Homo sapiens: one gene and its partners. The protein of the gene in region 1 purifies or fractionates together with the protein of each later gene. This does not show direct contact. Each region holds a gene or a part of one and is shown in the gene's direction. Other genes may lie near its edges.

Region 1 (3,500 bases):
AAATGGAGTTTTGCTCTTGTCGCCCAGGCTGGAGTGCAATGGCACAATCTTGGCTCACCACAACTTCCACCTCCTGGATTCAAGCGATTCTCGTGCCTCAGTCTCCTGAGTAGCTGGGATTACAGGCATGCACCACCCTGCCCAGCTAATTTTGTATTTTTAGTAGAGACGGGGTTTCTCCATGTTGATCAGGCTGGTCTCAAACTCCCGACCTCAGGTGATCTGCCCACCTTGGCCTCCCAAAGGGCTGGGATGACAGGTGTGTGCCACCTTGCCCAACCAATTTTTGTATTTTTTAGTAGACACGGGGTTTCATCATGTTGGCCAGGCTGGACTCGAACTCCTGACCTCAAGTGATCCACCTGCTTCGGCCTCCCAAAGTGCTGGGATTACAGGCATGAGCTACTGCACCTGGCCTGATTCAGTAGGTTTCCTTTTTTTTTTTTTTTTTTTTTTTTAAAAAAAAAAAAGAGAAAGGGCCTCGCTCTGACAGCCAGGCTGGAGTGCAGTAATGCAATCACAGCTCACTGTAGCATCAAACCCCTGGGTTCAAGAGATCTTCTGCCCAGCCTCCCTAGTAGCTGGGATTACAGGTACTTACCACCATACCTTGCTTATTAATTTTTTTTTTTAATAGAGACATGGTCTCGCTATGTTGTCCAGACTAGTCTCGAACTCCTGGGGTCAAAGGATCTTTTAGCCTCAGCCTCCTGAGTAGCTGGGACTACAGGTGCATACCACTGTGTCCGGCTGCACGGTGAGGAATTACTGAGTAGGTACTGCCCACTCAGCACAGGAGGGACTTCGGAGTCAACCCCCTCGCTTCAAATCACAGCTCTGTCACTTTCCACGTGTGTGACTTTAGTCACGGTTCTTAACCTCTTTGTGCATGTTTCCACATTTGTAAATGTGGAAATGATTTCTATTTGATCATTGCTTTCATAGGGTTGTTGTGAGAAATAATAAGCTAGGATGTGCCTGTAATCCCAGCTACTCAGGAAGCTGTGGTGGGAGGATCACTAGAGGCCAGGAGTTTGAGACCAGCCTGAGCAACATAGCAAGACCCTGTCTCTACAAATATATTTTTTATTTATTTAATTTAATTAATTTATTTGTTTGTTTATTTATTTTGAGATGGAATTTCACTCTTGTTGCCCAGGCTGGAGTTCAATTGTGCAATCTCGGCTCACCGCAACCTCCACCTCCTGGGTTCAAGCGATTCTCCTGCCTCAGCCTCCCAAGTAGCTGGGATTACAGGAATGTGCCACCATGCTGGGCTAATTTTTTTTTGTATTTTTAGTAGAGATGGGGTTTCTCCATGTTGGTCAGGCTGGTCTCGAACTCCTGACCTCAGGTGATCTGCCTGCCTTGGCCTCCCAAGGTGATCCCACCTCAGCCTTCCGAGTAGCTGGGACTACAGGCGTGTCTACCAAGCCTGGCTAATTTTTGTATTATTATAGAGACAGGGTTTTGCCATATTGCCCAGGCTGGTCTCGAACTCCTGGGCTCAAATAATACCCCCCTTCGGCCTCCCAAAGTGTTGAGATTACAGATGCGAGCCGCTGTGCCCCACCAGGGAATAAAATTTTTTAAAACCCTAGTGCCATATGATGAAGGGGCCCCTGCTTTTGAGGGAAGGGCTCCTGCCTTTTCTCACGCTTCTCTCCACCCCAGGTATGATCTCATGTACCAGTGCTGGAGTGCTGACCCCAAGCAGCGCCCGAGCTTTACTTGTCTGCGAATGGAACTGGAGAACATCTTGGGCCAGCTGTCTGTGCTATCTGCCAGCCAGGACCCCTTATACATCAACATCGAGAGAGCTGAGGAGCCCACTGCGGGAGGCAGCCTGGAGCTACCTGGCAGGGATCAGCCCTACAGTGGGGCTGGGGATGGCAGTGGCATGGGGGCAGTGGGTGGCACTCCCAGTGACTGTCGGTACATACTCACCCCCGGAGGGCTGGCTGAGCAGCCAGGGCAGGCAGAGCACCAGCCAGAGAGTCCCCTCAATGAGACACAGAGGCTTTTGCTGCTGCAGCAAGGGCTACTGCCACACAGTAGCTGTTAGCCCACAGGCAGAGGGCATCGGGGCCATTTGGCCGGCTCTGGTGGCCACTGAGCTGGCTGACTAAGCCCCGTCTGACCCCAGCCCAGACAGCAAGGTGTGGAGGCTCCTGTGGTAGTCCTCCCAAGCTGTGCTGGGAAGCCCGGACTGACCAAATCACCCAATCCCAGTTCTTCCTGCAACCACTCTGTGGCCAGCCTGGCATCAGTTTAGGCCTTGGCTTGATGGAAGTGGGCCAGTCCTGGTTGTCTGAACCCAGGCAGCTGGCAGGAGTGGGGTGGTTATGTTTCCATGGTTACCATGGGTGTGGATGGCAGTGTGGGGAGGGCAGGTCCAGCTCTGTGGGCCCTACCCTCCTGCTGAGCTGCCCCTGCTGCTTAAGTGCATGCATTGAGCTGCCTCCAGCCTGGTGGCCCAGCTATTACCACACTTGGGGTTTAAATATCCAGGTGTGCCCCTCCAAGTCACAAAGAGATGTCCTTGTAATATTCCCTTTTAGGTGAGGGTTGGTAAGGGGTTGGTATCTCAGGTCTGAATCTTCACCATCTTTCTGATTCCGCACCCTGCCTACGCCAGGAGAAGTTGAGGGGAGCATGCTTCCCTGCAGCTGACCGGGTCACACAAAGGCATGCTGGAGTACCCAGCCTATCAGGTGCCCCTCTTCCAAAGGCAGCGTGCCGAGCCAGCAAGAGGAAGGGGTGCTGTGAGGCTTGCCCAGGAGCAAGTGAGGCCGGAGAGGAGTTCAGGAACCCTTCTCCATACCCACAATCTGAGCACGCTACCAAATCTCAAAATATCCTAAGACTAACAAAGGCAGCTGTGTCTGAGCCCAACCCTTCTAAACGGTGACCTTTAGTGCCAACTTCCCCTCTAACTGGACAGCCTCTTCTGTCCCAAGTCTCCAGAGAGAAATCAGGCCTGATGAGGGGGAATTCCTGGAACCTGGACCCCAGCCTTGGTGGGGGAGCCTCTGGAATGCATGGGGCGGGTCCTAGCTGTTAGGGACATTTCCAAGCTGTTAGTTGCTGTTTAAAATAGAAATAAAATTGAAGACTAAAGACCTAAGGTTTTGTCTCTTTTTTTTTTTCTTTTTTTTTGAGACAGTCTCACTGTGTTGCCCAGGCTGGAGTGCATGGTGTGATCTTGGTTCACTGCAACCTCTGCCTCCTGGGTTCAAGCGATTCTTGTGCCTCAGTCACCAGAGTAGCTGGGATTACAGGGGCTCACTACCATGCCCAGGTAATTTTTGTATTTTTAGTAGAGATGTGGTTTCGCCATGTTGGCCAGGGTGGTCTTGAACTCATGACCTCAAGTGATCTGCCTGCCTTGGCCTCCCAAAGTGCTGGGATTACAGTCCTGAGCCACCACACCTGGCCCCAGCTTTGTCTCTTAAATGTTTACTTTTTTTGAGATCACAAAGATGAAAGATTTTTATAGA
Region 2 (3,500 bases), on another chromosome or scaffold:
TTATTTGGGCTTAAAACCCCACCCTATGATACTGAAGTTAGGAAAAAGGAAAGAGACTCAGCCACCTGCCTGCAGATGCTCTCTGACTGATTCTTGGATGAACCTGCCTCTTATCTCTTCTAGTCCGATTCATAGTCCTGTCCAACAACTACCTGCAGATCCGGGGCATCAAGAAAACAGATGAGGGCACTTATCGCTGTGAGGGCAGAATCCTGGCACGGGGGGAGATCAACTTCAAGGACATTCAGGTCATTGTGAATGGTGAGGAGAGTCCGTTCTTCCTGATCTCTGCATTGCTACAACCTTGGTTCTCCAAAATCATTCTCTTTAACTTCCTCTTGGGTCTGTAAATTAAATCCTGTCCTGACTCAATCATCCGTCTGAGCTAAATCCCCTCCCCACCGTAACATCTAGATTTCTTTTTTTTTTTTTTTTTAATATACTTGCCTGTTGGATCTTCCTTCAACTACGAGGGATTTTAGTGCAGCAACTGAATGTCCTTCACCGTTCTGCAGCACTAAAAACTTTCCCCCTGCTTACCTATTAATCCTCATTGTCCTTGATGTTACCATAATTGTGAAGTTATTCCGCTGCTTAAATGTTCAAAGAAAGTATTAAGTCAACTCAGGCCTCAGAATAGTCAGAATCATGGTCCATAGGCTTGTTAATCTTAACTTGCAGTGTCAAATAAACACACCCATGGAATTGATCTGACATTTACAAGATGTTTACAGGAAATTATAATGTCAGTACTAAGAAAATAAGTAAATCAGGGTTGAATTGTTTTGACTATTGACACATATTTTTTTTGCCAAACTCTCCCCATCTCATTCCTTTGGTAAAAAACAGTTTTGTACAAGGTTGTTTATCACAGTCCCAGAGAAATGGCACTCTTTGTTATAGCTGATGCATTCGAATTGGTGTTAACCATTTAACCACTGGGAGCAGTAATGTCCAACTTTTTCCAGTACAAAGAGCTCCTTTTTAACATCAAGTTTCACTGAACCTGGTAGTTATTAAGTTTAGTATGCATTGACTGAGAAAATACATAATGAAGAATAGTGACTATAAATTGAATACCATCTTAACATGCATAAAATGTATTACTATAGCTTCTCAATTAATGAAAAACAAAAATGCATGTTTGTAGAACTGTCTATTCAGTTTGCAGAAGTTATTTAGTACATACATGAATTTCAATTCCTGACACTAACTCTGTAGCTGCACACGACGTTTGTCCCACAGGCTGAGAACTCCTGACCTGGAGTGGTGTCTCTTCTCCAGGCCATTGGGTTCTTCCAAATTTTCACAACCACCCCATGACACCCTTTTTTCCTTCAGTGCCACCTACCATCCAGGCCAGGCAGAATATTGTGAATGCCACCGCCAACCTCGGCCAGTCCGTCACCCTGGTGTGCGATGCCGAAGGCTTCCCAGAGCCCACCATGAGCTGGACAAAGTAAGAAACTGGCTCATACCTTTTATCATGGACTAGAGGAGAATGGGGCATCACAAAGTCTGCTCCATGTTAGTGTCTGCGTGGAATGGATGTGGGCTTCTTAGGAATATTAACCCCAGGAGAAGAATGGACTCTTTTCTATAAGATTCTCTTGCTTGTGCATTGATTATTCCTTCAATTTCAGCCTTGTGGGGGCAGAGTCAGAGCCAGAGGGTGTGGTCTTGGGAGCCCACTTTGAAACATTTGTGGGTACAGTTGCAGCCCTTGGATAGTCAGAGGATGGAATAGAGGAATAAGAGGTGTATGTGGACGTTCAACTTGGTGCCTTAACTTTTTGTGAAGACTGAGGAGTCTTTCCCATTGACTCAGTCTGCATTCTATGGAACCTAATTAAAAATAAACGTCTTATTTCTGTGGTCGAAATCATGCTACTTTGCATTTCTACATGCTCTAGGGATGGGGAACAGATAGAGCAAGAGGAAGACGATGAGAAGTACATCTTCAGCGACGATAGTTCCCAGCTGACCATCAAAAAGGTGGATAAGAACGACGAGGCTGAGTACATCTGCATTGCTGAGAACAAGGCTGGCGAGCAGGATGCGACCATCCACCTCAAAGTCTTTGGTAGGGGCAGTGGGGGCCCAGGTCACTGCTCTGCCACAATTCCCCTTCCTCTGCACATTCAGTCCATCAGTAAGACCCTGGCCACTGTCCCTCAGAACATAACCCAATGCAACCATTTCTTGCCAGTTCCACCACCTAGTCCAAGCCCTAGTCCAAGCCACCATCATCCTCACCTGAGCAGTGGGACGGTCTCATAGCTGGCCTCCCCGACTCTCCCTATTGGTCCACTTCATTCACTTCTGCTCACAGTAGTCAGAATGACCTAAGTACCACTCATCTGTTTGAAAGCCTCCAGTGGCTCCCTATGGCAACCAGAATAAAATTCAGACTCCCTGCAATGGCCTACAAGACCAGAGATGAACTAGCTCCTGCCTTCTTCTCCAGCCTCATCTTTCTTTCGCTTTGCTGCACATGCAAAGTTCTCCAACCACACAGGCCTTCTTCATGTCCCTCAGACATACCAAGCTTGTTCTTCATCTCAGGATCACTGCCCTAGGTTTCTCTTCTGCTTGGAATATCTTTCCCTCTGATCCACTCTGAGCTGCCTTCTTCTGATCCACCATTCAGATCTTAACTCAAACTCACCTTCTCAGCGGCGCCTTCCTTCACTGCCCTGGCTAATTCAACTCCCTCTGCACTGCGACCACCCCCACCCACCTCCACTCATCTCTCTCTCGTGACTCTTACTGTATCTTCTTTGCTGTACTTAACAGTACCTGAACAGATGTCATTTGCATATTTGTTTTGGGGATTGTCTGTCTCCTACCTCTACTAGTGTGTAAACTTCAAGATAGCATAACCCTGGCTGTCATACACGGCGTTATCCCTGTGACTCCAAACAGTGCCAGACTTGGCATAGGCCCTTGGTAACTTTAGTGGTCGATGGGCTGGCTGCTTTGCCTTGTTTGCCTCCTTCCCTGACCTGTGCAAAACAGTGTCATGGAAGAGCCCCCACATCCCTGCTCACTTCATCTTCATAAACTCAGGAAACTTCCATTCATTTCAGAACTGAAAAGCATTTTGACCTGATCTTGAAAAAAGAATTGGTTGCAGAGAAACGTTTAACCTAATGGCCCTCAAGTCTCTCCGCGTGTCTGTTTAGAAAACACAGATAAACTGGTCTACTGTAGACAGCACTGGGGAAGTGCCAGTCTGAGGCGCAGCTCTGGTGCATGGAGCCCCCAGGTCATTAAAATGTGCACCTGGGAATCAGGGTTGGGACCTGCTTATCCAGCCTGATAAGGAGAACTGTTCATAAACACAGACCTTTGAAAATCAAGACTTTATATGCAAATGTCCTGCTAGTTATTCAGTAGTAAACAGCTGGGTTTAGAAACAGGCTATCAGTTAGGTTCAAGTTAACCGTACGTATTTGAGAGAGAAAGCTAAACTTCATGAAAAATATTCTTGAAAGTCT
Region 3 (3,500 bases), on another chromosome or scaffold:
TGAACCCAGGAGACGGATTGCAGTGAGCTGAGATCGAGCCATTGCACTCCAGCCTGGGCAACATGAGCGAAATTCTGTCTCAAAATAAGTAAATAAATAAGCAAATAAATAAATAAGATGTCTTTTTATTAACTCTAAGTGCTGGAACTGGATTAGCATTTATAACCACAAATGTTAGTGAAATATAAACTTTTTCTCCTTTGATACAATGAGAAGGAAACAGGAGGGGTTACTTTGCATTATTTGATGTATGTCGGGAAGCCCGGCCATTAGGCAACATATTTTTAAACCACCTTAATTTCCTATATCTCTGATTAATCTGGAAAAAGAAACAGGTTGAAGGTGATCTGTAGGGGGTTACCCGTATCTGTTAGAATTGTTTGTTCAAATGGATTTTTAATTTCTAGTAATTTATTGTTGTTTGCTCCTCTCTCACGCCTAACCCAGATACCAAAAATCTAATTTTCTGATGACATCATTATATCTCTATAGCAGCTGGCTTTGAGAGAGGATTCTAAGTTCAGTGAGATCAGCAGCAAACGAACTTAGAAGAAACAGAAATCTTGTAAATATTCTTTTTTTAAGAGCATAAAATTTGGAAATGATTTTAAAGCAGTATAATTTAGAAATTATATATATATATATATATATATATATATATATATAAAATTCAGAATTATTCCGTGGATTTTCTGTGTCTTTAAAATGCAACACATAATGATATTAGTGTTTTCTGAGGTTCTGGATGGGGGCCGAGGAGAGCGTAGCTAAGCATGGCCTATGTCAGTTCTTCTCTGCAAGGATCAACTCTTAAGAGGATGGCTCCTCTGCCCTCCACCACCTTTTCTTTCCACTTCCTTTGGCATTATTCTTGGTCTGTTTTCACCTCTGTTCTCTGCCTGCCTCATCTCTTTTATTGAGCGCTTCCCAGTCTTAGACCTCTAGTCAGAAACCAATGGGAAAGATTTTGTTACTGTCCAGCACCCTACAGTGACTGGGATGGTGGTGGGAATTCCATGATGACATAGATATCTGTTGTTTCCTGAGAGACATCATGTGTTGTTACACAATAAAAAGGTTTTTCACTGAAAAAAATGTTTAAATCTGTCTCTAGTGCCTCACTTCAAGAATTCAAGAAAACTCACTAATAAACATGTTTAATGCTAATTTAAGATGCGACCATTTAGAAGGGATCTTCAACTATCTGAATAATGTTGGAGCAACATGTGCCATTGTTTGGTTTGGCGAATCCTATAATGAATCCTGTAATATGTAAAGATGGCATTGCGTGCACCCATTCTTAATGAGATTATATTATAATGGGAGTATTTCCATCCTTCACTCCTACTCAAAGCCTGTTCTTTCTCTTCCTTTTGCAATTCCCTGAAAGCTTTCTGCCTGCTGTTAGGTTATTGCTGCCACCTGACGTCTCAAAATAAAATTGCCGTGGGTTTGCTTTTCCAAAAGATTCGCACTATTCTGCATTTTATGGAAATAACTATTTGAGAGCAACAGTTTTTTCTCTATACTCCTAAATAAGAGCATTCTGAAGTGATTACTTATGGTGGGGAGATTATGGGTATCATTCATTCCACAAGCAAAAGGTGGAACTAATAGTACAGGAGGGAATGTAGGAGTCCTAATCCCTAGAATAGGACAAATCGCCATTGTGACCTTGGTGTGTACTTCACCTCATAAAATTGGACTCAGTGCTCTTAACAGCCTTATTCCAGCTTTAACATTGTTTTATTGTGTGTACTTTTATTTATGAAAACATAGCCCTTCTCCGTGATACTATTTACTTTTTTGGACTAAAGTTCTCAGTGTTGAACAGGTTTTCTCTCTTTTTTTTAACAGATACATAATATTTCTACATATTTATAGGATACATGTGATATTTTATTACATGCATAGGATGTGTAATGATCATGTCAGGGTGGCTGAAGTATCTGTCACTTTGAGTATCATTTCTATGTGTTGGGAACATTAAAAGACCTCTCTTCTAGCCATTTTGAAATATACAATACATTGTTGTTAACTATAGTCACCCTACTCTGCTATTGAACATTAGAACTTATTCCTTCTATCTAACTATATGTACCCACTAACCATCCTCTCTTCATCCCTCACCCACCCACACACACCTGCCCCACCTTCTGGTATCTATTATTCTACTCTCTACCTCCATGAGACCAACTTTTTTAGCTCCTACATATGAATGAGAACATGCAATATTTGTCTTTCTGTGCCTGGCTTATCTCACTTAACACAGTGACCTCCAGTTCCATCCATGTTGCTATAAATTACAGGATTTTATTCTTTTCATGGCCAAATAGTATTTTATTGTGTATATATACTAAATTTTTCTTTATCTATTTATTTGTTGATGGACACTTAAGTCAATTCCTTATCTTTGCTATTGTGAATGATGCTGCAATAAACACGGGGGTGCAGGTATCTATTTGATATACTGATTTATTTTCCTTTGGATAAATACTAGTAGTGGGATTGTTGGATCATGTGATAGTTCTATTTTTAATATTTTGAGAAACCTCCATACTGTTTTCCACAGTGGCTATACTAATTTACATTCCCACCAACAGTGGATAAGAATTCTGCTTTCTCTGCGTCCTTGCCAGCATCTGTTATTTTTTGGCTTTTTAATAACAGCTACTCTAACTGGGGTAAGATGATATCTCATTGTCATTTTGATTCAGATTTCTGTGATGATTGGTGATGAGCATTTTTTCATTTATCTGCTGGCCATTTGTATGTCTTCTTTTGAGAAATATCTATCCATATCCTCAGCCCACTTTTTAATAAGTTTTCTTGTTTTTTAAACTATTCAGTTGTTTGAGTTCTTTGTATATTCTAGATATTAGTCTCTTGTCAGATGGATAGTTTGCAAATATATTCTTCCATTCAACAGGTAGTCTCTTCACTCTGTTGATTATTTCCTTTGCTGTGCAGATGCTTTTTGGTTGAATATGTTTTCTTATAGAGCTATGTTAAATAGATGTTCACATTTTCATTGTGTGAATAAATAGCTTTGATAGCTTTCCTTTGCTCAATTATCAGAGACACAGCTGAAGACTCTCTATTGTTTGTTTTTGTTTTTGTTTGAGACAGAGTCTCCCTCTGTCACCCATGCTGGAGTGCAGTGGCGTGATCTCGGCTCACTGCAACCTTCGCCTCCTGGGTTCAAGCAATTCTCCTACCTCAGCCTCCCGAGTAGCTGGGACTACAGGCACGTGCCATCGTGCCTGGCTAATTTTTTGTATTTTTAGTAGAGATGGGGTTTCACCGTGTTAGCCAGGATGATCTAGATCTCCTGACCTCGTGATCCGCCTGCCTCAGTCTCCCAAAGTGCTGGGATTACAGGCGTGAGCCACCACGCCTGGCAACTCTCTATTGTTAATACAGTCATAACCAGAATAACACTTCTCTGCTTGCTTAGTTATTCAGGGACTTCCTTTGCTTAACTTTGTACTTATAGTACA
Region 4 (3,500 bases), on another chromosome or scaffold:
GTTTTGGTAGGAATCCATTTTAGTATGATCTTTGATGATAAGGAATAAATTCCATGTTAATAACTGAAACTCATAAATGATTATAAACCTGATTTCAAGCATTTGTCCAGAAAATGCTCAATCATTTATGATTTTCTCTCTCTCACCCTATGTATTCAGGGGGTCCTAACACCATCCTCCTAATTCAAAAGATTTCTGAAATCCACCCCCACTCTTTTTTATCCCGACTGCCTCAGCCTTCATTCAGACTCCCATCCCTGGATCAATTCATCTCTGTTTCCAGGTTAAGTCCTCCAGTCCTTCCCACACCATTGCTTGAGTGATCTTTTTAAGAACATCAGATTCATCATGTCATTGCCCTGTGATGGCTTCTCATGGTCTTTGGTCATGGTCAATACATCCATTACCCCAGTAGGGAGATCCTTTCTCTACACCCTCCCAGGCAACCGAGAGTCTGTTTGTGCACACGCTCCCCTCTCTTCACCTGAGATTTGGCCTGTGTACCCATAGGCCAGCCTGATCATCCTTTTCTTTGCTGACTTAGCTCACTTGCCACCCAGGAAGTTCTCTGAATAGTTTTAAGTTGCATACCCCACTATGCTTCCAGTAGAGGACAGTCATACCGCCGGCATTGCTTTATCCTGCTTTGTTAAACTTGCTTCTCATTTTGCAGCACGAATCATGCCATTGATAAGGAAGAATAATGGTACTGATAATGAAAGTTGTGGTTGCTTCAATTGTGTTTAAAACTTTGTTTACTCTATATAACAAAATAGCATTTTCCCACATCATTAAATATTCTTCTAAAACATGATTTTAAAGGGCTTCTTTGTACTTCAACATATGGATAAACCATGTAGTATTTAACCAGTTCCATTTTATGGTCCTTTAGTTGTTTCAAAGTTTTTGCTTTCATAAAGAAGACTGGAGTGATCATTCTTGGACATATATCTTAGTGTGCATCGCCTTTTTTTTGGTAAATAAATTCTTAGAAATAGAGTGTACCAATTTGTAATCTCACCTATAATATATATGTATATCCATTTCACTATTTCCTTGAACTTCATTTTTAAACCTTTGTCAAATTTATCACACATAAAATTGTGTGATACTGGATTTCTATCAATTTCTATTGGATTTACCCTCTTTTATTTGTGCTTTCTACAGATTAAGCTAATTAACACTTTGCCATAAATGTGACTTTATTTTCCATTTTGTCACCCCCTTTTTTTTTGTTTGTTTTATTGAGATGGAGTCTTGCTCTGTCACCCAGGCTGCAGTGCAGTGGTACAATCTCGGCTCGCTGCAGCCTCCGCCTCTCAAGTAGCTGGGACTTCAGGCGCGTGCCACCACGCCTGGCTAGTTTTTGTTTTTAGTAGAGATGGGGTTTCACCATGTTGGCCAGGCTGGTCTCGAACTCCTGACCTCAGGTGATCACCCGCCTCAGCATCTCAAAGTGTTGGGATTACAGGCGTGAGCCACTGTGCCCAGCCTGTCATCCCCTTTTAAACTAGTTTGTGGTGGATTTTTTATTTAAACATCAAAAATACTGTTAATCTTTTTGTTTAGGTAAATATTAACCAGTATTTTCTTCTAGTTCTTTTGTTTTTTTGTTTGTTTGTTTTTGTTTTTTTTGAGATGGAGTTTCACTCTTGTTGCCCAGGCTGGAATGCAATGGCACAATCTCGGCTCACTGCAACCTCCGCCTCCCAGGTTCAAGCGATTTTCCTGCCTCAGCCTCCCGAGTAGCTGGGATTAGCCACCACGCCCGGCTAACTTTTTTTTTTGTATTTTAGGAGAAACGGGGTTTCTCTGTGTTGGTCAGGCTGGTCTCGAACTTCTGACCTCAGGTGATCCGCCCGCCTCAGCCTCCCAAAGTTCTGGGATTACAGGCGTGAGCACCGTGCCCAGCCTTTCTTCTAGTTCTTTAGTGGTTTTACTTGTTTTAAGTATTTAATCTGTCTCAAATTTATTTTGGTATATGATGTGAGGAGGAGATTTCACAATGTTTTTGCCATTGGTTAACCAGTTTTCCCCATCCCTTTTATTACTAAACCTTTCTTTGGTCACTGACTTGCAAGGACACTTTTTAATATATTTAATTTTAATTCTAATTTTTATGTATTTGTTTTTTTGAGACAGAGTCTTGCTCTGTCACCCAGGCTGGAGTGCAGTGGTGCAATCTCAACTCACTGCAGTCTCCACTTCCCGGGTTTAAGCAGTTCTCCTGCATCAGCCTCCCCAGTGCCTGTAATCCCCAGGTGGGATTACAGGCATGCACCACCACACCCAGCTAATTTTTGTATTGTTAGTAGAGACAGGGTTTCTCCATGTTGGCCAGGCTAGTCTCGAACTCCCAACCTCAGGTGATCTGCCTTACTCGGCCTCCCAAAGTGCTGGGATTACAGGTATGAGCCACCATGCCCAGCCACTTTTTAATATATTTAAGGCAGCATTTAACCTAATAAAAATAGTAGCCATGCTTCAAGTATTGCTCCAAGCAAGCTTCACAAGCAATATCTCATTTGAGCCTTGAATCAGTCCTGAGGGTAGACACTGTTATTCTCTTCAGTTTAGGAATGATGTGATACTGAGGCTTAGGTTTAGTAATTTGCCTAAGGACACACAGCTAGCAAGCAGCTGAGTCTGAATTTGCACCAGGATGTCTGCTTTCCTTGTTGTTGTTGTTGTTGTTTTTGAGGCATAGTCTCACTCTGTCGCCTAGGCTGGAGTGCAGTGGCACAATCTTGGCTCACTGCAACCTCTGTCTCCCAGGTTCAAGTGATTCTCCTGCCTCAGCCTCCCAAATAGCTGGGACTGCAGGCACCCGCCACCACACCTGGCTAATTTTTGTATTTTTAGTAGAGACAGGGTTTCACCATGTTGGCCAGGCTGATCTCAAACTCCTGACCTCAAGTGATCTGCCGGCCTCAGCCTCCCAAAGTGCTGGGATTAGAGGCATGAGCCACCATGCCTGGCCTCAGGATGTCTGCTTTCTTGAACACTGCTACAGTATACTTCCTTGTTTTCTTATGTTTATTCTTGAAATTTGACTTCAGAATCATTTTGTCAAGTTCCCACGACATAAACCCAACTAATAAACAACAACAAAAAATCCTATTGGTGGTTTTTTTAAAGTAATATTAAATGTATAAATGAATACAGATTAAGTTGAATTAACCTCTTTGCTGTATTAAATATTCTGATTCTTGATCACGCTGCATCTCTCTTTATTCCCATTTTCTTCTCAGTCTTTCTATGCACTTTGCTATTTTTACAGTACAAGTCTTTTGTAGTTCTTGTTTATTTTTGGATAGTCTCTATTTTTTGCTGCCAGTGTGCCGCAGATCTTCTTGCTGTGATGTTTTCTCAATACGAGTTTGTTGGTGGATAGGTGGGTGGATGAAGGAACAGCCCTGGTTTCCTATCACTCTCCCTGCTCCCACCCACTAGAACGGAAGGCCTGACTGGTTGGTGCTTGTGCCTCCAACCACTTAGCA

The links. Proteins that work in one complex are often made in the same cells at the same time.
Region 2: the proteins of TYRO3 (region 1) and NCAM1 purify together in Homo sapiens (affinity purification with mass spectrometry; one large-scale study listed by BioGRID and IntAct). This does not show direct contact.
Region 3: the proteins of TYRO3 (region 1) and HSD17B12 purify together in Homo sapiens (affinity purification with mass spectrometry; one large-scale study listed by BioGRID and IntAct). This does not show direct contact.
Region 4: the proteins of TYRO3 (region 1) and PTDSS1 purify together in Homo sapiens (affinity purification with mass spectrometry; one large-scale study listed by BioGRID and IntAct). This does not show direct contact.

Annotation. Positions count from the first base shown.
Region 1 is NC_000015.10:41,576,212-41,579,711, forward strand, and holds part of TYRO3 (tyrosine-protein kinase receptor TYRO3 isoform 1 precursor), read left to right. Parts: exon of another isoform or gene 1-54; intron 55-1,674; coding exon 1,675-2,065; 3' UTR 2,066-3,500. UniProt on the Homo sapiens protein: Receptor tyrosine kinase that transduces signals from the extracellular matrix into the cytoplasm by binding to several ligands including TULP1 or GAS6. Regulates many physiological processes including cell survival, migration and differentiation.
Region 2 is NC_000011.10:113,205,920-113,209,419, forward strand, and holds part of NCAM1 (neural cell adhesion molecule 1 isoform 2 precursor), read left to right. Parts: intron 1-123; coding exon 124-261; intron 262-1,341; coding exon 1,342-1,459; intron 1,460-1,913; coding exon 1,914-2,083; intron 2,084-3,500.
Region 3 is NC_000011.10:43,809,738-43,813,237, forward strand, and holds part of HSD17B12 (very-long-chain 3-oxoacyl-CoA reductase), read left to right. Parts: intron 1-3,500. UniProt on the Homo sapiens protein: Catalyzes the second of the four reactions of the long-chain fatty acids elongation cycle. This endoplasmic reticulum-bound enzymatic process, allows the addition of two carbons to the chain of long- and very long-chain fatty acids/VLCFAs per cycle.
Region 4 is NC_000008.11:96,299,902-96,303,401, forward strand, and holds part of PTDSS1 (phosphatidylserine synthase 1), read left to right. Parts: intron 1-3,500. UniProt on the Homo sapiens protein: Catalyzes a base-exchange reaction in which the polar head group of phosphatidylethanolamine (PE) or phosphatidylcholine (PC) is replaced by L-serine. Catalyzes mainly the conversion of phosphatidylcholine.